Homo sapiens: one gene and its partners. The protein of the gene in region 3 interacts with the protein of the main gene of each other region in a pairwise test. Each region holds a gene or a part of one and is shown on either strand. Other genes may lie near its edges.

What was found.
Region 1: the proteins of VMA21 (region 3) and HMOX2 interact in binary tests that used the Homo sapiens proteins (3 or more experiments, as listed by UniProt).
Region 2: the proteins of VMA21 (region 3) and BNIP1 interact in binary tests that used the Homo sapiens proteins (3 or more experiments, as listed by UniProt).
Region 4: the proteins of VMA21 (region 3) and SLC35E4 interact in binary tests that used the Homo sapiens proteins (3 or more experiments, as listed by UniProt).

Annotation. Positions count from the first base shown.
Region 1 is NC_000016.10:4,507,128-4,511,437, reverse strand, and holds the end of HMOX2 (heme oxygenase 2), read right to left. Parts: intron 3,726-4,310; coding exon 3,234-3,725; intron 2,027-3,233; coding exon 1,900-2,026; intron 1,810-1,899; coding exon 1,682-1,809; 3' UTR 1,091-1,681; downstream 1-1,090.
Region 2 is NC_000005.10:173,154,529-173,162,388, reverse strand, and holds part of BNIP1 (vesicle transport protein SEC20), read right to left. Parts: intron 3,646-7,860; coding exon 3,544-3,645; intron 2,457-3,543; coding exon 2,338-2,456; intron 317-2,337; coding exon of another isoform or gene 244-316; intron 78-243; coding exon of another isoform or gene 65-77; exon of another isoform or gene 29-64; intron 1-28. UniProt on the Homo sapiens protein: As part of a SNARE complex may be involved in endoplasmic reticulum membranes fusion and be required for the maintenance of endoplasmic reticulum organization. Also plays a role in apoptosis.
Region 3 is NC_000023.11:151,393,014-151,400,768, reverse strand, and holds the start of VMA21 (vacuolar ATPase assembly integral membrane protein VMA21), read right to left. Parts: upstream 3,564-7,755; 5' UTR 3,461-3,563; coding exon 3,408-3,460; intron 1-3,407. UniProt on the Homo sapiens protein: Required for the assembly of the V0 complex of the vacuolar ATPase (V-ATPase) in the endoplasmic reticulum.
Region 4 is NC_000022.11:30,644,921-30,648,393, reverse strand, and holds the end of SLC35E4 (solute carrier family 35 member E4), read right to left. Parts: intron 1,797-3,473; coding exon 1,363-1,796; 3' UTR 501-1,362; downstream 1-500. UniProt on the Homo sapiens protein: Putative transporter.

The DNA of each region.
Region 1 (4,310 bases), on a different chromosome or scaffold from region 3:
CTGCCACTGTCCTTCCTGGTCTCGCACTGCCACTGCATGGCCTCCTGTCACTGTGAATCGTGGCCCAGTCTCAGTTTGTAGTTTCTCATTAAATTGGCCCTTTCACTCCCCCGCCCTGGGCCTCTGCTCTCTTGCCTGGCTTCCTTCTTTTTTGAGGGAAAGAGGGTGGGGCTGCAGGCAGTCTACTGGCAGGACGGGAGGCTGAGTCCTCAGGGTCTCACACCCTCAGTGCTGATGCCATGCCAACTGCCTGGGACAACACCAACACGTAAGGACCTAATTAAACCAAACCAGAGTCGGGTGTAGACCAGCCCTGGGATTTCCAGCTGTGACTGGGCCAGGGCACACGTTGGTCTCGGCAGTGGCTGTAAGGTCACCTTCCTTCCTCTGATGCTGGTTTCAACCATCTATATATGGCATCCACGCATGGGATCTGCAAGCTGGAGCCCTCCTACCCGCAGGCTTGAGCACAGCATCATCCAGCCCTGGGGAGGCGCACCCTTAAGCAACACAGACTGGGCTGAGGCTGACAGGCAGAAGACTAACAGAGCGCAGTCTGCACACGCAGGTTCTGGGCGACCTCTGGCCCTGGCCATCTCTGCACTAACTCATCTGAATTATGAAGGTGGCAGTCTTGGTCAGTAGTTTAAAGAGTTTCCCTACTTTTTAACCCTTTTTGAAATAAAACTTTTACAGGTAGTAGATTCCTATTAATAAAATTATTTAAGTTCATGTTTCTCTTTTAGAGAATGAATTGTTTAAATACAAATATGTGCTTTTTTAAAACCCTTATTTTTAAATATATATATATATTTTAAAAAAACCTTTTAAGTAGGAAACCTCTAAGGTATTTCTGAGCTAAAAAATAGCAGTGCTGGATACACTTTAAAGATCTTTGCAAGACGGTTAGAGTGACTTTGCTTTGGAGACTAGAGGTGCTGGAGAGTAGACCCAGAGCAGGAGGTGGCTGCTGGGAGCCATGATGGACGATGTCCACTCCCCACACAGACATAACATGCCCTTGCTTCTGAGGGACTCTCCTATGGGGAGGTGGCTTGACCCACCCGGTGCCAGGAGGCAGGGAAGGAGGTAGCTTGCAAAGCCCACTTTATTGAGTGCTGGAGCATTTACACAGCGCGGAGGAGGAGATAAGCTGGGGCTGAGCAAACCGCACCCAAGGGGTTAGAGGGATTCTGGGTGAGAGGGATGAGCTCCCAAGGCCTCTGAGGCTTCCACCCACACCCACCCTCACTCCCAGGGTCCAAGAGAGGCCCAGAAGTTGTACAGCAGCATCCAGCAAGGCCCCCTCGCACAGCTTGGACTTACAGGCCACTCACCTCCAACAGGGGAGATAGTCACCCATGTACTGCAAAAACAGGGACTACCGGAAGCAGCCTAGGGCCCAGAAGTGTGGAAGCCTGGAGTAGAGCTGGGTCGGGGGCCAGGCTTGCTGCACTGTGCCGACTGCTCCCAGGGTGACGGCCTGTGCCCAGTGCGGAATATGGCCCATAGAGAGGATGCTGTCAGGCAGAGGCTCTAGCATCTGGCTTTTATTGGTTGCCTTTCTTAAACCCAGCATTTTTTAAAAAGTCACCTGAGGTGGTAGTTTAGTCAGGGCTGGAGAAAGGGGTAGGCCAGTGGTCAGTCGGGAGGAGGGTACCGGTGTGGCATGATGGGTGCTTCACATGTAGTACCAGGCCAAGAGTCCAGCAGCTAGGGCCACACCAGCGGCCAGGATGAACTGGAGGCTGGGCTTCCTCAGCACAGCCATAGCTGTTCGGAAGGGACAGCTGCTGCCCTCCAGGGCACCTGTGTGGCAGCACCAATAGGAGACATGGCATCAGTGGAGTCTCCTGCTACACCTGCCCCAGGAGGGGAGCTCAGGACACACAGACCTACCTTTGTCTTGTTCAGCAGCGTAGAAAGGGCATTTACGCATGTCTCCTTTCCCATCGTGTACAGGGAACCCATCCTCCAAGGTCTCTCTGGCCAGTGTGGAGCCGGCCTGGTCCAGTTCATTGAATATCTGCAGGAGCAGAGGATCGACTGAGCCATCTTTGGGCTGCCCATACTTTTTTTTTTTTTTTAAATGTCTTTTGAGATGAGGTCTCTGTTGCCCAGGCTAGAGTGCAGTGTTATGAACATGGCTAACTCACTGCAGCCTCAAACTCCTAGGCTCAAGTGGTCCTCCCACCTTATCCTCCTACGTGTGTGTACCACCATACCTGGCTAATTTTTAAATTTTGTGGGGAGATGGTGTCTCACCTTGGTTGCCCAGGCTGGTCTTCAACTCCTGGGGTCAAGTAATGCCCCTGCCTCAGCCTCCCAAAGTGCTGGGATTACAGGCATGAGCTACTGCGCCTGGCTACACTCTCCTTTTAGAGGACGCCCTCCAGAGAGAGTGAGCTGGAGCAGGTGAGCTTGCTCAGGTGTGCCAACTACACAGCAAGCAGCACTGGTGGGCGGCAGCTGCACTGCCTGATGGTCTTCCCTCCCTAGCAAGAGCTCTGGGGAGGTGTGGATATTGGTACCCCAAGAAGGCTGCCAAATGCTGGGTCTCCCCTGGGAACTGACCAGAGATGTAGCCTTCTCTGAGGTGGCTCAAGCCACTGAAACTACCACAGCACAGACAGGAGGGCATGAGTACATCCCCATTTCTAGGTGCTGGTTATTTTTTTATCAAGAAGCAACAGAAAACCTGGAACATGGGAGAATGAGACTGTGGCAGGGCATACTCATCCTGAGTGCCCTGGGAGGCCTCAGTGGAAGCTGACAGGACCTGGGGACAGAGTAAGCTTCCCCAGGTTCAGCCTCATCTAAAGGCTACTTGTAAACAGAGCTTATTTACTCTCCTTGGTGGCACTGGCTCTCTATTAACTTATAAAGCAGGGCTTCTCAGAGCAAAACTTGAAAAGAAAATTAACCATTCTTCAAGACCAGCATCCTGCAATGAGGGAGGAAGCCAGCTCCATTCTTCCAGACCCCTCTATGTGCGAGAGGACTCACCCTTCCCAAAACACTACCCACTGGCATCTATCACACCAGGCCTCCATGCTGGGAACCACCCACTGGGCCCACAAGCTCTGGTGGCCAATCTGGTGGCCACCTTCCTCTCGGCACCCTGCAGCTCATCTGTCCTAATGCCATGTGTGCCTTCATGGGCCACTATGGATCTGCTACCACTGTCAAAGTTTCCCTCTTCAGCCCTAGCAGCTGGCAGCCCCCAATAGTACCTGCATGTTATACTCAAAAGCCTTGTTGGCCTCCTCCACGATCCTCTCTTTGGTCTTCATGTTCAGGTCCAGGGCGTTCATCCTGGCCCGGTAGAGCTGCTTGAACTGCTGGGCATTGTCCACATTCTCAAACAGGTAGAACTGGGTCCCTTCCCCTGTGCTGGGGAGTTTCAGTGCTCGCTGGGCCACCTTCTTCAGCACCTGGCCCCCCGAGAGATCCCCCATGTAGCGGGTGTATGCATGGGCCACCAGTAGCTCCGGCTCGTTCTGCCCTATGTAGTGGATCCGCTCCACGTACTTCTGGGCAGCCTTGGGGCACTGCACCTGCTCCTCCCAGTTTTCACCAAAGAAATACTCCATGTCCTTGGTCAGCGCCTCCTTCCGGTGCAGCTCCATGGGGAAGTACAAAGGGGCAAAGGCTGGATGGTCCTTGTTGCGCTCCATTTCCTCCTCGAGGGCTGAGTATGTGAAGTAAAGTGCCGTGGTGGCCAGCTGTGGAGGTGACAGGAGGAGGCCAGCTATGCCTGAGCACACCACATCCGAGCAGCTGGATGCAGAGGCTCAAGTGACAACCCCCAACCCCAAAGACCCAATCCTATGGTCCATTTTTATGTAGTGAATTATTTAACACACAAGGAAGCTTTTGTTTCTTAAAGGAATGGCATGGTGAAGTCTTTGGAACACGCATACTTTTGCTTCCTTCACACCACTATGTTATTCTATCTAAGCCATGAGAACCAATTTTTTTTTTTTTTGGCGGGGTAAAGAGTCTCGCTCTGTCACCCAGGCTGGAGTACAGTGGGACGATCTCGGCTCACTGTAACCTCCGCCTCCCAGGTTCAAGTGACTCTCCCACCTCAGCCTCCCAAGTAGCTGGGAGTACAGGCACGCGCCACCACACCCGGCTAATTTTTGTATTCTTAGTAGAGACAGGGTTTCACCATGTTGGCCAGGCTGGTCTCAAACTCCTGGCCTCAAGTGATCCACCTGCCTCGGCCTCCCAAAGTGCTGGGATTACAGACATGAGCCACTGTACCCAGCCGAGAGCCAGAGCTTAACGTCAAGAAGGAATGGAGT
Region 2 (7,860 bases), on a different chromosome or scaffold from region 3:
GCCTCCCAAAGTGCTGGGATTACCGGCATGAGCCACCGCGCCTGGCCAAAATCCACACGATGTTTCAAAGACTTAATCTAAGAAAAAGGAATGTAAAATATCTCAATAGTTTTTAATATTAGTTTTACATTGAAATTATAATATTTTACATAATGGGTTAAATAAACATCTTACTAAAATTAATTTCTTATGTTTCTTTTTACTTTTTAACATGTGCCTACTGGAAAATTTAAAGTTACATACGTGGCTGCTGTTGCGTTTCTATGGCAGTCCTGGGCTAGAGTTTTCTTATCCTTCTCTATGCTGTATGTGTTACCTTTTTAAAAATTAAAAGCTAATAAGTAAATAGGATAAATTATCAGAGGAAACACAGCAGCGTTTTGAAAATGACAGATAAAAGGAGAAAAACAAACACTCACAGAACAGGAATCCCTCTCCGCCTGCTTTCTCCACGCCTGCCTGCTGCGATTTCAAAACCCTGAGATCTTGCTAAGTAAAAATCTAATAGGCCTTTCTTTTTAAACTTTATTATTACGGAGAATTTTGAACCATCACAGAGCAGACAGCATAATATCATGAAATGCCATGTGTCCACCACCCATAACCAAGAACCACCAACCTCTGAAATCCTGCTCCCCCTCCCCCCAACTGCAACTACTCCTGCAATTGTGGAGCAAATTCCAGACACCATATTCCTAATAAGCTTTTTGTTTTAAAATTATGGTCCTAGTAGGCTTTTAAATCAAGCTGAATTTGTGAGGCATAAGGAAAGGGTTAAGAACTGTATTCTTCTCTTTTCTTCAATAGTTATCGCTTGTACAAAATGGGCCCCAAGAACACCGGGACCCTCTCAACACCCCAGAAGCCACCAGCATTTGTGTTTCCTTCCCACTGTTAGCGGGGGGTATGCTGTCGCCACACCAGAGCATAAAAGCCCTGGGCTCAGAGGCCAAGTTGTCGCCTTGCTCCCTCTCTCTCCAAGGCCTCTCCCACAGCACACGCTGAGAGGAAGCCCCTGGCTGGTTCCGAGCCCAGATGTTCAGGTAAGCTGCAAACTCAAGGAGTGACCTTGGGGTCACCTGCTTGCTTTCCTTTTGCTTCTGCCTATTTGGTGCACTGAAAAAACAGTGGTCCAAAATTATAATTTCTAGGGGTGATCATGGTATTGTAGTTATGGGGTTGCTTCTGCTTTTTCCCCAAAGAGTCCCTTATCTTTTAGAGAGATGTACTGAGATATTTATGGATGATGTCTGGGATTTGCTTCAAAATAATCCAGATGGGGGATGGGCTGAGGGTAGAACTGAAACGAGACTGGCTGGGGTAATGGACTCAGGGCTCAGGGGATTCAGGATACCATGCTTTCTCCTTTTGTCCACGTGTGCAATTTTCCAAAAGCGTTTCAAGGAGTAAACGCCCTTTTTCTGTTGTCTTATACTGAAGGACCCTGGAGAGGGCTGATACTCTTCTCCATCACAGAGGAGACACTCTGGGAAAACTATTGGAGGAAACCAGATGGTCTCAAGCAGTCTCTCCTGTAGCCTCTGATTCACATCTTTTAAAAGGAACTCATAGGAAAAATAACGTTGGGGAGTATAATTGTAAACTGAGGTCCTAGCAGTCCTACCAGCAGCTGATTCGCCAAACATCTCTTGGAGCAACCATTCCCAAACTTGCCTGGCCATATGGGTCCCCAGAGCCCTCACTGAAAATCAGACTCCAGGCCCCTCACCCAGCCCTGCCGACACCCTCTCTAGGAGAGGGGCTGGGACCTCTGCCTTTCACATGAACACATGGGAATGCTCCCCCTGAGGAAACATCGATGGGGGTGTGGGGTCTTCTAGTAAACAGAAATACGGGCCGGGCGTGGCATCTCACGCCTATAATCCCAGCACTTTGGGAGGCTGAGGCAGGCGGATCACCTGAGGTTGGGAGTTCAAGACCAGCCTGACCAACATGGAGAAACCCCGTCTCTACTAAAAATACAAAATTAGCCGGGTGTGGTGGTGCAGGCCGGTAATCCCAGCTACTTGGGAGGCTAAGGCAGGAGAATCGCTTGAAACCAGGAGGCAGAGGTTGCGGTGAGCTGAGATCGCACCATTGCACTCCAACCTGGGCAACAAGAGCGAAACTCCATCTCAAAAAAAAAAAAGAGAAATAGGAGCAGCACATCCCACACTGGATAAGACCATGGTGTCAAGTCATCTCATGAGGGAGAAGCCACCCAAGTCAGTGAACATCGTGTGGGCTGTGGTGGAGGAGCCCAGAGTGGAGGTGCCAGGGCAAGGGCCCTAGAGCAGCGTCTCTGGGAGAAGCTTCCTACTCCAGGCCCAGCTTTACCTAGAGACTGCATGGCCTCCTCGCTCTGCTGGACCTGCTGGGCCATCATCCTGCTGATCCCCATGAGGCTCTCAGTGATGGTACTGGATGTCTGGGCCAGGCTCTCTTTGGTGGTTTTCCTAAAAGTTCAGAGGAAGAGAAAGGGGAGGAATGTCAACAAAAGCCTCCCTGCAAGAAGGCCCCACATCCAAATGAGATCTCATGTTTTACCTATCCAATTAGTATACATATTTTAAATGATCACATTCAATGCTGGAAAGGGTGTGCTGAGACCCACGCCCCTGTGGACTGCTAGTAGGAACATAAACCAGTGCTGCCTTCTGTAAAGCAATTTGCCAATTGAAGAGCCTTGGTAATGTTCATTCCTTTGACTCAATCATCTCATCCCTGGAAATCCCTCCAAAGGAAACATCCAAAATGTGGATAAAGCCTTATGTTCTAAGACATGCCCTGGTGTATTACTTACACTACTTAAACACTAGAAATGCAAACACACACAGGGAATTGTATTAACATACAATCTACATACTATGTACTGTTAGAATTAGGCTTAAAAAGCTTTTTTTTTTTTTTTAATGAACAACTTTTGTGCTGAAACAGCAGAATATGAAATTTTATGTATGGTACAATTTTGACTTTGTAAGAAATGTAGAAATAAAAATGAGGGAGAGAATATACCAAAATGTTCATGAGTAATAAGATTTGATATTTTCGGCCGGGCATGGTGGCTCACGCCTATAATCCTAGCACTTTGGGAGGCTGGGGTGGGTGGATCACCAGAAGTCAGGAGTTCAAGACCAGCCTGGCCAACGTGGTTAAACCCCGTCTCTACTAAAAATACAAAAAATTAGCTGGGTGCAGTGGCACGCAACTGTAATCCCAGATACTTTGGAGGCTGAGGCAGGAGAATCACTTGAACCCAGGAGGCGGAGGTTGCGGTGAGCCAAGAGGGCACCACTGCACTCCAGCCTGGGCTACAAGAGTGAGACTTCATCTCAGAAAAAAAAAAAAATTCAATATTTTAATTTTGTAATTCATACTTTATTTTACCAATTTACTACAAATAAGTATGCATTTTTTTCAAACTTAAAAAAATTACTTATGTAATTAAATTAAGCACCAAGCTGAAAACAAGAGGGGGTTTCCTACACCTTGCCAATTGTTATCTATTATTATCGGAGCCCAGAAAAATAAAAGAATAGGTACCTTTGCCTTAAGAGATCTCCTCCCTGAAGAAGTTCTGCTTTCTCTAGATTGTCGATTGCAATTTTGCAGGTGAGATTAGCTTTCCTCCATGAGGCCTGATTGCTGGAATTGGAAGGTTCACGTGTGAGTGTGTCCACTCCACCAAGCCATAAGTCAGTTCAATTCACAGCACTTCCCCCCAACAAAGGCACACGGGAGAAGGCCACCAGGCACGGCCTTCAGAGCCCATCCCACCTCCTGCCACTTCCGCCTCCTGGTTCCCCAGCAACTGTTCTTGCTCAGGTCCTGATACCCCTTGACCGGACCCTGGAGGTCGCCACGGGGAGGCTCTGTTGCTGTCACTCTGCCCCCGTCAGCCCAAGGGGCTGTGAACATGGCACTCCTCTGTGCACAGCTCCACAATGGCTGGACTTCAGGGAGGCATCCAAACTTCCCAGCTGGTCACACAAGGCCCCTCTTCAGTCCAGTTGCCTCTAAGGCTGTACTGCTATGGCCTGTGTATTAATTGGTACCATCCCCGGAGAACCATGACTTACTCATCTCCAGTATCTTGAACAACCATTTCTGGCCCTTCAGCTGCTGAGTTAATATACTTTGTAGGAAATAAAAAATCGTGGCCAGGCACAGTGGTTCACACCTGTAATCATAGCACTTTAGGAGGCCGAGGTGGGGGGATCACTTGAGCCCAGGAGTTCAAGACCAGCCTGGGCAACATGGAGAAACCCCGTCTCTACTAAAAATACAAAAAATTAGCCAGGCATGGTGGTGGCGCATGCCTGTGGTTCCAGCTACCCAGGAGGCGGAGGAGCGAAGATCACCTGAGCCTGGGAAGTGGAGGTTGCAGTGAGCCGTGATAGTACCACTATACTCCAGCCTGGGTGACAGAGTAAGACCTTCTCTCAAGAAAAAAAAAAAAAAACACACACACACACACAAAAAGCCAATCTTTCAAAATATTTCTTCAAGGTTTGTTGTTCTTTCCATACTACAGACCAATCATGAATGACACAAACATGATGGATTAGCAGAGCCCTGACTGACACGGCGGATCTACAGTCTTCACCTGCGCTAACTTGTGGGTGATAACGGAAAGTTGGTGAACAGCTTCCTGGAGTTAGAAATGTGACAGTTGACCGGGCGTGGTGGCTCACATCTGTAATCCCAACACTTTGAGAGGCCGAGGCGGGTGGGTCACTTGAGGTCAGGAGTTCGAGACCAGCCTGGCCAACATGTTAAAACCCTGTCTCTACTAAAAATACAAAAATTAGCTGGACATGATGGCGAGTGCCTGTAATCCCAGCTACTCGGGAGTCTGAGGCAGGAAAATCACTTGAATCTAGGAGGCAGAGGTTGCAGTGAGCCAAGATCACGCCACTGCACTCCAGCCTGGGCAATGAGAGTAAGACTCCGTCTCAAAAAAAAAAAGAAATGTTGACAGTTGTTGATAGACTATAAAAAAGCTAACTGCGTCTCTCTAAGAATCAAACTCATACTTCAGAACTCTTATGTAGCCAGCTCAAACCAATTGTGCTAATCTCTGGAAATACTCAAAAATCAAAACACAGAGTACATGAACTGACAGGGTGGTTTTCTAATAGCACCTTTATGCTGAAGGTCTTAATGAGCACCTGCTCCGCCATTTCACACCTGCCACTTTAAAGAATCCATTACATTTTGAAACAGTTTGCAAGGGGGTTCTGCAGGACCCTGGGATCCAGAGATGAATGAGGGGCAGTACTTCTCCTCAACCACCTCACATTCATTTGGGAAAAAGACAAGCAAACAGATACTCACTGTATGGTGTGACAAGCATGATGACCCAAGCAAGCACAACTACTGCTTCAACTGCCAAAGTTGGTTTTTTTTGTTTTTTTTGTTTTTTTTTTGAGACAGGGTCGGCTGGGCACGGTGCCTCACGCCTGTAATCCCAGCACTTTGGGAGGCTGAGACCGGCGGATCATGAGGGTCAGGTGATCGAGACCGTCCTGGCTAACACGGAGAAACCCCATCTCTACTAAAAATATAAAAAATGAGCCAGGCGTGGTGGCGGGTGCCTGTAGTCCCAGCTACTCGGAGAGGCTGAGGCAGGAGAATGGCGTGAACCCGGGAGGTGGAGCTTGCAGTGAGCCGAGATTGCGCCACTGCACTCCAGCCTGGGTGACAGAGTGAGACTCTGTCTCAAAAAAAAAAAAAAACAAAAGAAAAGAGGCAGGGTCTCGTTCTGTCTCCTAGGCCAGGTGCAGTCACATGATCACGGCTCACTGCAGCCTTGACCTCCCGAGCCCACTGCCCTCCTGCCTTGGCCTCCCAAGTAGTTGAGACTACAGGCACACATCAGCATGCCCCCAGCTAATTTTTTTTTTTTTTAATAGATGAGGTTTTGCTTTGTTGCCCAGGATGGTCTTAAACTCCTGGGCTCAAGCAGTCCTCCTGCCTCGGCCCCCGAAGTGCTGGGATTATAGGTGTGAGCTACTGCACATAGCCCCAAAGTATAAATTGACAGCTTTCTCTGCTCTGGCCTGTAATGCTACATTGTGGATGGCCATTCCCAGCTTTAAACCCATGCTAAGCTGAGTGTGTCTGGCATAACTTACCATACTTTATACAAGGGCTCCTCTGTACTCAGTGTTTATAATCTGAGTAGGCTTGGTGGCTCAGGAAAGCAAAAGCCATCATAACATAAAGTATTCGTGAAATAGCCAAGCCCTGGATCACTGCCCACCACTCATACAGCCCTCCCTGCTTACACTGGCCTCCCTGTGCCTGTGTTTTTGCCAGTCGGTGTCTTCCTGACAGCTGACTGTTACATACACAGCTGCTTGCAGGGAAGATGATGCTGGCAAATTGCTCAAATCAGAAGCAAAGCCACAAATACAGATCTGGCAGAGGCAGACCAGTGAACAAGAGACAAAGAGAAAACCCATGGGAATGACAACTTAGCAGGGGTTTCAAAAGAGAATGATTTAGCCAGGCACGGTGGAGTGTGCTGTAGTCCCAACTACTTGGGAAGCTGAGGTGAGAGGATCGCTTGAGCCCAGGAGTTCCTGAGGCTGCAGTAAGCTATGACTGTACTCCAGACTGGGCAACAGAGAAGGACCTCATTTCCAAAATTTTTTAATTTTTTAAAAATAAAAATATTTTTTTTTTGTTTTTAAGGTGGAGTCTCACTCTGTCACCCAGGCTGGAGTGCAGCAATCTCGGCTCACTGCAACCTCTGCCTCCCGGGCTCAAGCGATTCTCCTGCCTCAGCCTCCCGAGTAGCTGGGATTACAGGTGTGTGCCACCACACCCGGCTAATTTTTGTATTTTTAGTAGAGAGGGGTTTCACCATGTTGGTCAAGCTGGTCTCGAACTCCTGACCTCATGATCTGCCCACCTCGGCCTCCCAAAGCGCTGGGATTCCAGGCGTGAGCCGCCGCACTGGGCCAAAAATGTATTTTTAAAAAAGAGAGAGAATGATCTGAATACCTCAAATATGTTTGGAAAAACCCTCTTTATGATTGGTACAAAAGTCAAATGTGAAGGGAAAGATACTGTTTCATGTTGTCTGACAATTTCATTGGAAAAGTTAAACCTCTCCCAATTCAATAACAAGAAATGGCATATAACTGTAACTATATAATCAAGGATTAGCACACACCTGCAATTACAACCTCGATTTTGGTTTTAATTTTTGACCTCAATTTTGTTTAATTTACGGTTTTTCTTGCATTTTATTTTATTTTATTTTTAGACAGCATCCCACTCAAAACCTTCTAAATTTTGGTCCACCTTCAGCAGGTTTTCTTTCTGTAGATTTTTTCTGGTACCAATTATCCTTAGATAAAAAATGACCCTGTATTACAAAAGCAATCATATTTTTTGATTAAAAATATACAATACAGTATAATGTTAAATATGCTTTTGTAAACTATGTTCAGCTCCACCTGCTCAGATAGGCCCTATTTATCCCTTCCCCACTCGCCCCCACTTGACTATTGCTGACTGAGAGAGAACATTCCACCAGTGTGTAACTGATGCAATTGGCTGGGCGTGGTTGCTCACACCTGTAATCCCAGCACTTTGGGAAGCCAAGGTGGGTGAATCACATGAGGCCAGTGTTAGAGACCAGCCTGGCCAACACAGCGAAACTCTGTCTCTAGTAAAAATACAAAAATTAGCCAGGCGTGATGGTGGGCGCCTGTAATCCCAGCTACTCAGGAGGCTGAGGCAGAAGAATTGCTTGAACTCGGGAGGCAGAGGTCACAGTGAGCCAAGATCAGGCCACTGCACTCCAGCCTGGGCAATAGAGCGAGACACCGTCTCTCAAAAAAAAAA
Region 3 (7,755 bases):
CCACTATGAGATATAACCTCACACTTCTAAGGACAGCTATTATCAAAAAGGCAAGTGATAACAAATGTTTGTAAAAGTGTGGAGAAAAAGAAACCCTACTACATTGTGACTGGAAATGTAGACTGGTACAGCCATTATGGAAAACAGTTCCTAAAGAAATTAAAAATAGAACTACCACACAGCCCAGCAATCTCTCTTCTGGAATATAAGCAAAGGAGATGAAATCACTACCTCGTAAAAATATCTGCACTTCCATGTTCATTGCAGCATTATTCACAATAGCCAAGATTTGAAAACAACCTACGTGTATGTAGACAGACAAAATAAAGAAACCGTAGTGTATATATACAAGGGAATATTTTATTCAGCCTTAAAAGAGGACATCTGCCATTTGCCACAACATGGATGGACCTGGAAGACATGTTAAGTAAAATAAGCCAAACGCAGAAAGACGAATACTACATGAGCTCACTTATATGTGGAATCTTTAAAAAAAAAAAAAAAAGGTCAACGGTCAACTACACAGGGACAGAGAATAAAACAGTAGTTACCATGGCGGTGGGGGTGGGAGGCTGGAGGGGAGGAAATAGGAAGATATACATCAAAGGACACAAAGCAGTAGATATATGGATTAACAAGTGAGATATCTAATGTACAAGAGGACTATAGGCAATAAAGTTGCATGGTATTAGGGACTTTTGTAAATAAGATTTTAGCTGCCTCTGGTCACACACACACAAAAGTATGTGAGATGACAGATATATTAATCTGCTTCACCATAGTAATCATTTTACTATATGTATGCCATAACATCATGTTATGAACCTCAAATATACACAATGAAATTTATTTAAAAAGAACCTGAACAAAAAACCCACAAAAACATTGAGTAAAATATATATTAAATATAACTAACCTCATGCCTATTTCTTGATCACATGCTCTGCACATGTGTGAGAAATTAAATGCTTACTGCTGTAAAAAAAAAAGTTCTAATATTTTCTTTTGGTACTTAAATGGATCATCTTTTAGCAGGCCTCATTTTGGTTATTACTGAGCTATACAACTCTCATTTAATATACATAAGCTCCCTTAAACTGTTTCCTACTAGTAAATTTTTAGAGAAATTTATTGTGTAATCCTCATGAAGAGTATGAGTGTCTGCAGTGGAGAATCTACAAAAAATACAAAGAGTCACTAATTGGCCAATTCTTTTGTGCACCCTAAAAAAAGCACTTGACTTTGGTGTTTCTATGGTGAGTAAAAAAGTATGTTTTAGGAATGCAACTTTCAGATTATCTAACTTGTTAAAGGAACAGAAAGGAAGTGTTAACTGATTGTTTTGTTCTTTACATGACCTCTCTTGAGTATCTATTATCTGGTCTGGCTTTTAAAAAGTTTATTATTGAAAAGATGATATAACACCATAAAAATGTTTTAAAGTAAACAAAATCACCTATAATCCCACCACCCAAATATAACCTTTCTACATATTAATTTCTAGCCCCCACACAATCTATACACAGCATACCTTAATAATTTATGGCTAATTCCTTCTCACTTCTCTCTTTACCTCAAACTTCAAAAATGTGACTACTTTTCTGTGTTGTGACCTCACTAATATGGGACTAAGCATTAAGTCAAAGTGTACATACAAACTTTTGAAAACTAGCAAACTTCCTCTACTGTTTATAGGACATTTTCTCCCTGGATTCCAGCCACAAGAGCTGTTGGTTTTGCTGATGCAAGCCACCTTGGGTAAAATCAGTGGCTTATCCAAGACAAAGCAACTGATGCTATTCAATTGATTTATCCTATGTATCTTTGGGTGTTACTGAGCAGAGATTTGTTAGAAGTGAGGAATGAGAAAGGCTGGAATTAAAGTTGTCCTCACACAAAGGAAAAAGTTCAGGATGAACCTTAATCTGCCTCCATTTATAACACCACCTAGTTTTCCCACTTCATACAAACTTCTGCAGCCAACATTGAGCAGACAGAGCCTACCACATTCCCTTTTGTAGCAAGTAAGACAACAGGAATTCTTTCTCCCACAGTCAAGATTTCACTGCAAATTCCATTAGGAAACCAGAATCAGTCTAGAAGGACTATGCTGTAAGTGTATCTAATAAAAATATGTTGGTATTCTCATAAATGAATAATTAAAAAAAAACCCACATTGAGGCTGGATAAAGAAAATGCGGTACATATACACCATGGAACACTATGCAGCCATAAAAAAGAATGAGATCATGTCCTTTGCAGCAACATGACTGGAGCTGGAAGCCATTATTCTAAGCAAATTAAGACAGGAAAAGAAAACCAAATACTGCACGTTCTCATAAGTGGGAACTAAACAACAAGAACAGATGGACACTAGGAGAGGAACAACAGACAGTGCGGTCTACTTGAGGGTGGAGGCTGGGAGGAGGGAGAGAATCAGAAAAAACGCCTATCGGGTACTATGCTTATTACCTGGGTGACAAAATTACCTGTACGCCAAGCCCCCGTGACATGCAGTTTACCTATATAACAAACCTGCGCATGTACTCATGAACCTAAAATAAAAGTTAAAAAAAAAAAAAAAAAACTCACAATGACCCTGTCGGAAAGAGAAGGCATCACAGAGCTCCAAAGATCGTGGGCTTTGGAGTCAGTGAGCTTGGTCAAACGTTAGCTTCAATTACATACTAACTTTGTCGCCTAATTCTGTAATCACTCACCCTCAGTTTCAAGTCACTTACCCTCAACTGCATCCTCTTCAAAATTGGGAAATCAAGCAGTTAGAGAAATTAAGAATTCTGACAATGTATGTAAAGCACGTGCACTGAGCCTGGCATACAGTAGGTCTTAACGAATGATAGCTAACTCCCTCACCACTCCCTTGCCTACTGGGGTGGGCCAGAACCACCTGCTCTCTCATACATTCCTTCAACTCAGTCACCAGCCTCTATCTTACTGATTCCCCAAGTGAAGCAATCTCACACCAGGGGACTATTCCCTTCTACTCCTTCATTCATACAGCAAACATTTATTAAGCCCCGACTATGCAGGCCCCCTAGGGAACACGGAGATGAAGGAGACTGCATTCCTGTCCTCAGAAGGCTGACCCTGCGGTAATGAAAGAGACTGCAATATAGACACAGCGAGAGAAAGTGCTAGGATAGGAGCATGAGCTGAAGGCCCACTGACCTATTCCCCATGACCCCGGATCCCTTGTTCCCGAGCGAAAGTTCGGGGCCGGGAGTTTAGACGTCTCAGGCTCCAACCTGCTTTCCCCGCCCCCTTCCCTGAGGCCAGGTCCCCGGGGTCCAGACCTCACGCCCACCCATTCAGCTAGGGCCTTCCCTCAAGCCCTGCTCCAGGCTGGGGCCAGTCCGCCTCGCGGTCCAGGCCCCGCTCAGGGCTACCTGAACTCAGGAGGCTGCAGTGCGTTCAGCGCCGCCTTATCCGGGCGCTCCATGGTGTAGCCGTGCCGGCACAGGCGCTCGGCGGCGGAGCTGGGCTCGGCGGCCGCGCTCAGTAAGCTCCGCGAGGGAACGGCCGAGGCGGTTCGCACCGGAAGTAGCGGTTCGCGCCGGAAGTGCCCGTTCGCGCCGGAAGTGCCCGTTCGCGCCGGGCGGCGGGCCACAGTACGCAGGCGCGGCGCGGCGCGGCGCGCCGCAGCGACGCAGGGCTGTTGCCGGCGCGGGGGCGGGCGCTCACATGACTTACCGGCGGTGGCTCCGCGGCGTGCGCCCTGCCAGGAGGGGCCTGTGCTCGAGGAGCAGGCCTGGCGAGTAGCCCAGCCACTCCACGTTGAGCCGGGACTTGCCGCGCAACATGGTCCTCCTGGGCGGGCGGCGGCTACGCCGCCCCCTGAACTCGCGTGAACACTGGTCCTCGTCTGCGTCTCGGTCGCTGAGCTGGGGGCCGCAAGGAGACCCGAGCATATGAGCCGCGAAGAGGGACTACCAGCCAGAGGGCTGTGGTGCTAGGCAACTGAGCGTATTCCGCCGACGACAACACAAAAAAGCAGTGCGCATTATTTCGCCACTACTTGAGCAAATAAATGCCTCATTAATTACTGCCCGCAGTGGTAGGAAGTCAAGCCCTTGGCAGCTGGGAGGAGTTAAAACACTCACCCGAGTCCGTAAAACTAGAGAATGTCAGAGTTCAAAGAGCTCTTGCTGAGAATGACTGTTCCAGACTCGATGCCAGTGACCCCCAACTTCCACTTAAAAGTTAAAAACATATTTTGCAGCTGCTCAGAAAGCCGCCAATGAGACAACAGGGACTCAAATAGTAAGAACAGATGGGCCTCCCGGGCCTGCGCAACCCGAGAGAGGTAAAAACGAAAGGGTGGGTAAGTCTGGAGTCAGGCTTGACAAAATTAAGTTGCCACTGGCTGCTAATAAGAGGACAGCCCTTAACATGGTCAGCGCCTGGAAAGGGCCGCTGACCACACAGCTATTTTCTGCACCACATGGATACAAAGACCACATCTGAAATCATGACTAAACCAGCAGCTTAGAGTGGTGGAAAGGGCAATGGACTGGGCAGCAGGAAGTCCAGGTTTTAGTTCAAACTGAATAATCCCCCTCTAGGGCTGACTGTGCTGGCTCACGCCTGTAATCTCAACACTTTGGGAAGCTGAGGCAGGAGGATTGCGTGAGGCCAGTAGTTCCAGAGCAGCTTGGGCAGCATAGCAAGACTCCGTCTCTAAAAAACAAACTGTAAAATATTTAATAAAAATAATAGTAATCTCTATCTGGGCCTCATCTAGACCTTTAGGTGAGTAAGAACCACCTAATGTAAGAACTTGGGGTACAAAGAGAATCTAGCTCTGGGGTAGGCAAACTGAGCCAGCCGACCTAATACATGGAGCCTACCACCTGTTTTTCTACAGCCCTGAGGTAAGAATGGTTTTTCCTTTTTAAATTGTTGAAAACGTCAAAAGAATAACATGACACGTGAAATTTATATGAAATTCAAATTTCAGCGTCTATTGATAAAATTTTATTGGAGCTCAGCCATTCTCATTTGTTTGTATTATCTACAACAGCAATGTTGAGTAGTTGTGACAGAGACGGTATGATCTGCAACGCCCAAAATGATCTGCAATGCCCAAAATTCTTACCATCTGACCCTTTTACAGAAGAGTTTGCTGACCCCTGCTCTAGCTAATCAGCCTGCAGTGAGGTCCTTCAATCCCTAGGGACCCATAAATGTAGTAATGGTGGTTCTGAAGGCAGTTTTTAATATTTTTAAAAACCTAATGAATCTATTTACTGTTAGGCATCCAAAGCTACTTAAAATATCACCGTTCTTTGATTTTTGACACTTACTATATCATGATGAGGTTATCCTAGTTATCCCATAAGAAAAGACTGTTCACAGATTATTATGAAAATAAGCCACAGTATACTTAATAGAATAAATCTTTTAAAACATAGAATGAACACAAGTGGGGGAACGGAATTGTGACTTATTGTTCCCCAATACCTAGAGTAGGGCCTGGTATATAGTAGGAACTAATAAATATTTGTTAAATAAATAAATTGGGTCCACAAAAGGAAAAAGAGCAAAATAGTTCTTGATGGTGAAAAAATTGGGAACCAGCTTGGCGTGGTGGCACATGCCTGTAATCCCAGCTACTCAGGAGGCTGAGGCAGAAAATCGCTTGAACTCAGGAGGCGGAGGTTGCAGTGAGCCAAGATCGTGCCACTGCACTGCACTCCAGCCTGGGTGACAGAGTAAGACTCTGTCCACCCCCCCCCAAAAAAACTGGGAACCACTGTTGTTGTAGTTTGCCGGAGCTGCCATAACAAATGCCACAAACTAAGTGGCTCCAACAACAGAAGTTAATCATCTCCCAGTTCAGGAGGTTAGAAGTCTGAGATGGAGATGTTGGCGAGGCTGGTTCCTTCTGAAGGTTGTGAAGGAAGGACTGTTCCAGGCCCCTCTTCTGTTTTCTGGTGGTTTGCTGACAATCTTTGGCATTTCTTGGCTTGTAGAAGCATCACCCTGATCTCTGCATTTTTCTTCAAACGGCCTTCTCCCTGCGTCTGTGTTTCTGTCCAAATTTTCCCTTTTTATAAGGACACCAGTCATAATGCATTAGGGGCCCACCCTACACCTGTATGAACTTAATTATTTACATCTGCAGCGACGCTGTTTCACTCTGGGGTACTGGGGGCTAGGATTTCAGCATATGAATTTGGGGATGGTGTGGGTGACCGGGCCAGCAATTCAACCCATAACAGTAGTCTAAACACTTCCTTGTACAGATGAGAAAACTGCGGCCCAGAGAGGGGACGGGACTTGTGGGAAGTCACACATTTATCTAGTGGGATGTAGCTTGACTCCTGACTCCCAGGCTGGCACTTTTACACTCCCACATTAACAGCCTAAGTTGCACTTGTGTGATAACTTAAACAGGAACCATTCATAAATGAGATTTGCTGTGGGAAAAACTTCTCATGTAATTTACATAGTAGTGTTTTTAAATATAAACAAAAGCTCTCATATCTCTTATTTATTTATTTATTTATTTATTTATTTATTTATTTATTTATTTCGAGACAGAGTCTCGCTCTTTCGCCCAGGCTGGAATGCAGTGGCGCGATCTCCGCTCACTGCAAGCTCTGCCTCCCGGGTTCACGCCATTCTCCTGCCTCAGCCTCCCGAGTAGCTGGGACTACAGGCGCCTGCCACCACGCCCGGCTAATTTTTTGTATTTTTTTTAATAGAGACGGGGGTTTCACCGTGTTAGCCAGGATGGTCTCGATCTCCTGACCTCGTGATCCGCCCGCCTCGGCCTCCCAAAGTGCTGGGATTACAGGCGTGAGCCACCACGCCCTGCCATATCTCTTTTTTATGCTGACTTATACACTCTACCAACATTTACTGTGAGCTTACTGAGGTAGACACAGAACTTTAAAAATAAACTCAGAATCTGTACTAGAAGGAAAGAATCTAGCCAGCAGTCAGCCCTCTCAACAGAGCCCTGAAACCTCCTACCTGCAGTGCTACAAAAGAATTAGAGGCAAGTGGAGCCCACACAGAGCCGTTGCCATGGGAATGAAATGGTGTGTTAGGGGGTGTGGCCACTACAGAGGAAACCATAATAGTGGTTTCCTACCACTGCTGCCCTAAAGCATGTGTCTTGTGCTTCATTTTACTGAGCATATTCACAGTCCCTACAATTTATACCATCCCCACTTCATAAGTGGAAAAACTGAGGCCAGGGAAAATTTCAGAGTCTGGTGAAGGCTTCCCAATGCCCCTTAAAGTCAGAAACTGATTCTCAAACTGAAAGAGCCCCAGTTTGGCACTTTAATTTTAGTTGAGAAAACTGACAGCTAAAGATGGGAAGTGATTTGCCCCAAATTCCCTAGGTCAGTGATAGAATTAGAGAATGTATAGTTCCTAATTCTGTCTCATGTTTTCTCCACCATATTGTTGTAAACTTCTGTACTACTTGTAAGACACGTTTTCTCCACCATATTGTTATAAACTTCTGTACTATTAACCCAGTGACGTGAAAAGTATACACCCAAAGACACGTTTTGCAACCCCAAATTGCTTTACTTACCCGAAAAAACTTCGTTTCTTGAAGTTTCCTTTTGGGTGGCTGGCTGTGGGATTGGATGGAACAACCATATTGAAACACCAACTGATACTTGCCAAGGCCTATACCTGAACAGCACGGTGTTTTTAAAACTAAGACATAAGGAAAATAGAAATAAGCTCCACTGTACAATCAACAAAACTCAT
Region 4 (3,473 bases), on a different chromosome or scaffold from region 3:
GAGGTTGTTGTAGGAAGCGGGGACTGGACGGAGGGAACAGCATGTACAAAGGTTTCAGTGAGCAGGCCTGGTATCACGGGGAACTGAAAGAAGTCGGTGAGGCTGGAAGGCAGAGCCCAGGGGAAGGGAGACAAGCTGGGTGAGGCTGCAGGTGCCACGTCCTGAGTGAGTTGGGGTCTGGGGTAGGAAATTCTGACTTTGTCCCAAGAGCAGTGAGGAACATCAGAATGTGCACGTTTTAGTGAGATCCCTCTGGGTGAAGGGGTCTGTGTGTAAGATGGAGTAGAGGGGCCAGGCAGAGCAAGGGGGAGGCCACTGCCACTGTCCAGAAGATGGGCAATGGTAGCCCAGCCAGTGGAGGGATTTGAGGGAATGGCACTGGGCTCGGGGTGGGGGGCCAGACAGACTGCGATGGGTAAGGGAGGATGTCCTAGTTTCTGTGTGGGAAGCCTACCACTCTCCCTATATCCCCTCTGTACAACCAACAAATGACACAGGCATACAAGCAAAAATAGTGTATTTGAGGATGGATGACCCAAAATTGGGGGGCCCAGGGGTGAGGCCACAGCAGCTGCCTGGAGTTGGCACAGACTACCCCAACTCCCTAGGGGAGCCCAGCAGCATAGAAGCCCCCCTGCTGGGCCTCCTAGCTGCCTCCCCCCCAGGAGGAAGGATTGTGTAACCGCCAAGAATCATCATCATCGTCATTGTAACAAGTTGAGGTCTTCAAAGTTTGCCCAGCAATTTTTGGCATCGTAATTGATATTAATCATAATAATGACTCTGACAAGCACAGGGACTGTGCCAGGCTTGGACCCACCATCCAGTGGTGTGCAGAGTCTGTGGCAGGGGTGAGGCAGGCAGGGATGGAACGCAGGTCTCCCTGGGAGTCCCCATTCCAATCTCCAAGGCAGCCCTTCCAGAAGGCTCCCCTCCCTGCCATGGCCCCCAGTAGAGGTCACTGCCAGTTCTCCACTTTTTTTTTTTTTTAATTGAGACAGCGTCTCGCTCTGTCTCCCAGGCTGGAGTGCAGTAGCATGCGATCTTGGCTTACTGCAGCCTCGATCTCCAGGGCTCAAGTGATCCTCCCACCTTAGCCTCCCATGTAGCTGGGACTATAGGCACGCGCCACCATGCCCAGCTAATTTTTCTATTTTTAGTAGAGATGAGGTTTTGCCATGTTAGCCAGGCTGGTCTCGAACTCCTGGCCTCAGGTGATCCACCCACCTCGGACTCTGGAAGTGCTGGGATTATAGGCGTGAGCCACCATGCCCAGCCCTGTTCTCCATTCCTTCTATGGCCACAGCGGAGGCTGGATTCAGGCCAGGGCCATCCCAGGTGGCTCCTGAGATCCCCCAGGTCTCAAAGACCCTTGCTGGGCTGGTCCCTCCGCCACAGCCCCCGACGGGCAGCCCAGGAGGCCACGAACTCGCAGTTGTGGTAAAGGAACATTCCTGAAAGAGTGAGTGCGATGCCCACGTAGCTGAGGGCACTGAGGCGGCTGCCAAACAACAGCCGGGACAGGATGAGGTTGCCCACCACGGTGAGGTTGCCCAGGACGTGGACGGTGAGGGCAGAGGTGAGGGCCAGCAGGGAGAAGCTGGCCAGGTTATAGAGAACAGACAGGAGGCAGCTGAGCAGGATGCAGGCCCAGAGGCGAGAGTCGCCAGCAGTGGGCGGTGGGGCAACGCCAGCCTCCAGCACCAGGGCTGCACCCGCCAGCAGGCAGAAGCTGGGCAGCGAGGTGGCGTAAAGCAGGGTCACCGCGTCCAGCCTCTCCTCCTGCAGCAGGGCACCTGCAACAGGACAACCGCCATGAGCACCCAGAAGGACACAACCCCCTCCAGCCACCCCAGTATGACCCCTATGGCCGATCCTCCAAGAAGCCTACCCGGACCCCTCGGGCAGGGCTAGTGGCTCCTGATCTGAAACATGACAGTCAAGAGTTGGAGTCAGACCACCTGGGTTTGTGACCTGTGTCCACCCCTGAGTAGCTGTGACCTGGGCTCATGAGAGGCACTTAACCTCCGTAAGCCTGAGTTTCCTCACCTGGAGAGTTGGGTAATAATAAAACCTAATCACGGGTTGTTGTAAACATTTTAAAAGACGGCATACATAAAGCCCTTAAATGGGAAATGCTCAGTAAATATAAAAAACTAAACTAAAATAAATAAGTCTGTTATCAGCCACTTCAAACTGCCTCCCACGAGCTGAAACAATGATATGCTTGGGATATCTAAATGATCAATAAGCATGAAGACTAAGTGGCTCAAAAAACATTACAAAGGCTGGGTGTGGTGGCTCATGCCTGTAATCCCAGCACTTTGGGAGGGCGGATCGCTTGAGCCCAGGAGTTTGAGACCTGCCCGGGCAACGTGATAAAACCCTGCCTCTACACAATACAAATATTAGCTGGGAGTGGTGGCACGTGCCTTTAGTCCCAGCTACTCAGGAGGCTGAGGCAGGAGGATCTTGAGCTCAGGAGGTGGAGGTTGCAGTGAGCCAAAATTGCACCACTGCACTCCAGCCTGGGCAACAGAGCGAGACCCTGTCTTAAAAAAAAAAAAAAAAAAATCGGTCAGGTACAGTGGCTTATGCCTGTAATCCCAGCACTTTGAGAGGCTGAGGCAGGAGGATCACTTGAGCCCAGAGGAAGGCTACAGTGAGCTATGATGATGCTACTACACTCCACCTCAATGACCAGAGCAAGACCCTGTCTCTAAAAAATAAAAATAAATCTTCAGGGGCTGCCCTGGCCCTGAAGGTCCTAGGTTCTTTTTTTTTTTTTTTTTTTTTTTGGAGACAGAGTCTTGCTCTGTTGCCCAGGCTGGAATGCAGTGGAATGATCTCGGCTTGCTGCAACTTCTGCCTCCCAGGTTCAAGTGATTCTCCTGCCTCAGTCTCCCAAGTAGCTGGGATCACAGGCATGCGCCACCACAACTGGCTAATTTTTGTATTTTTAGTAGAGACGGGGTTTCGCCATGTTGGCCAGGCTGGTCTCGAACTCCTGACCTCAGGTGATCCTCCCACCTCGGCCTCCCAAAGTGCTGGGATTACAGGCGTTGAGCCAGTGCACCCAGCCCAGGGTTCTTCACCCAGCTTCGAAGACTCTGCATCAACTGGCCCCAACCACCTTTCCCGCCTCAGCCCCTATCACTCCCACACTGCAGTTCCAGCCACCATGAAAGGGCAGGCCAGCAGAGGGTCCCAGCTCTGCCACTTACTAGCCACATGGGGGCCTTTGCATTAAAAAAGAAGAGTTTATAAAAGAAAATAATAAATTGGGTCAAAAGTGTGACCCATTCATTGCCTCATTCACTTATGACCACTGGAGTGACAAGGGGACAAAAGGTCATTGTGGGATCTTGGCTCTCACTCACTGTTTATAACTGATAATCAGCATCTTTTTTTTTTCCTGCTAATACTGTGGCTTGTCAAGATGAATCCAGGACTAAGAGGAAACCTTTTCACTT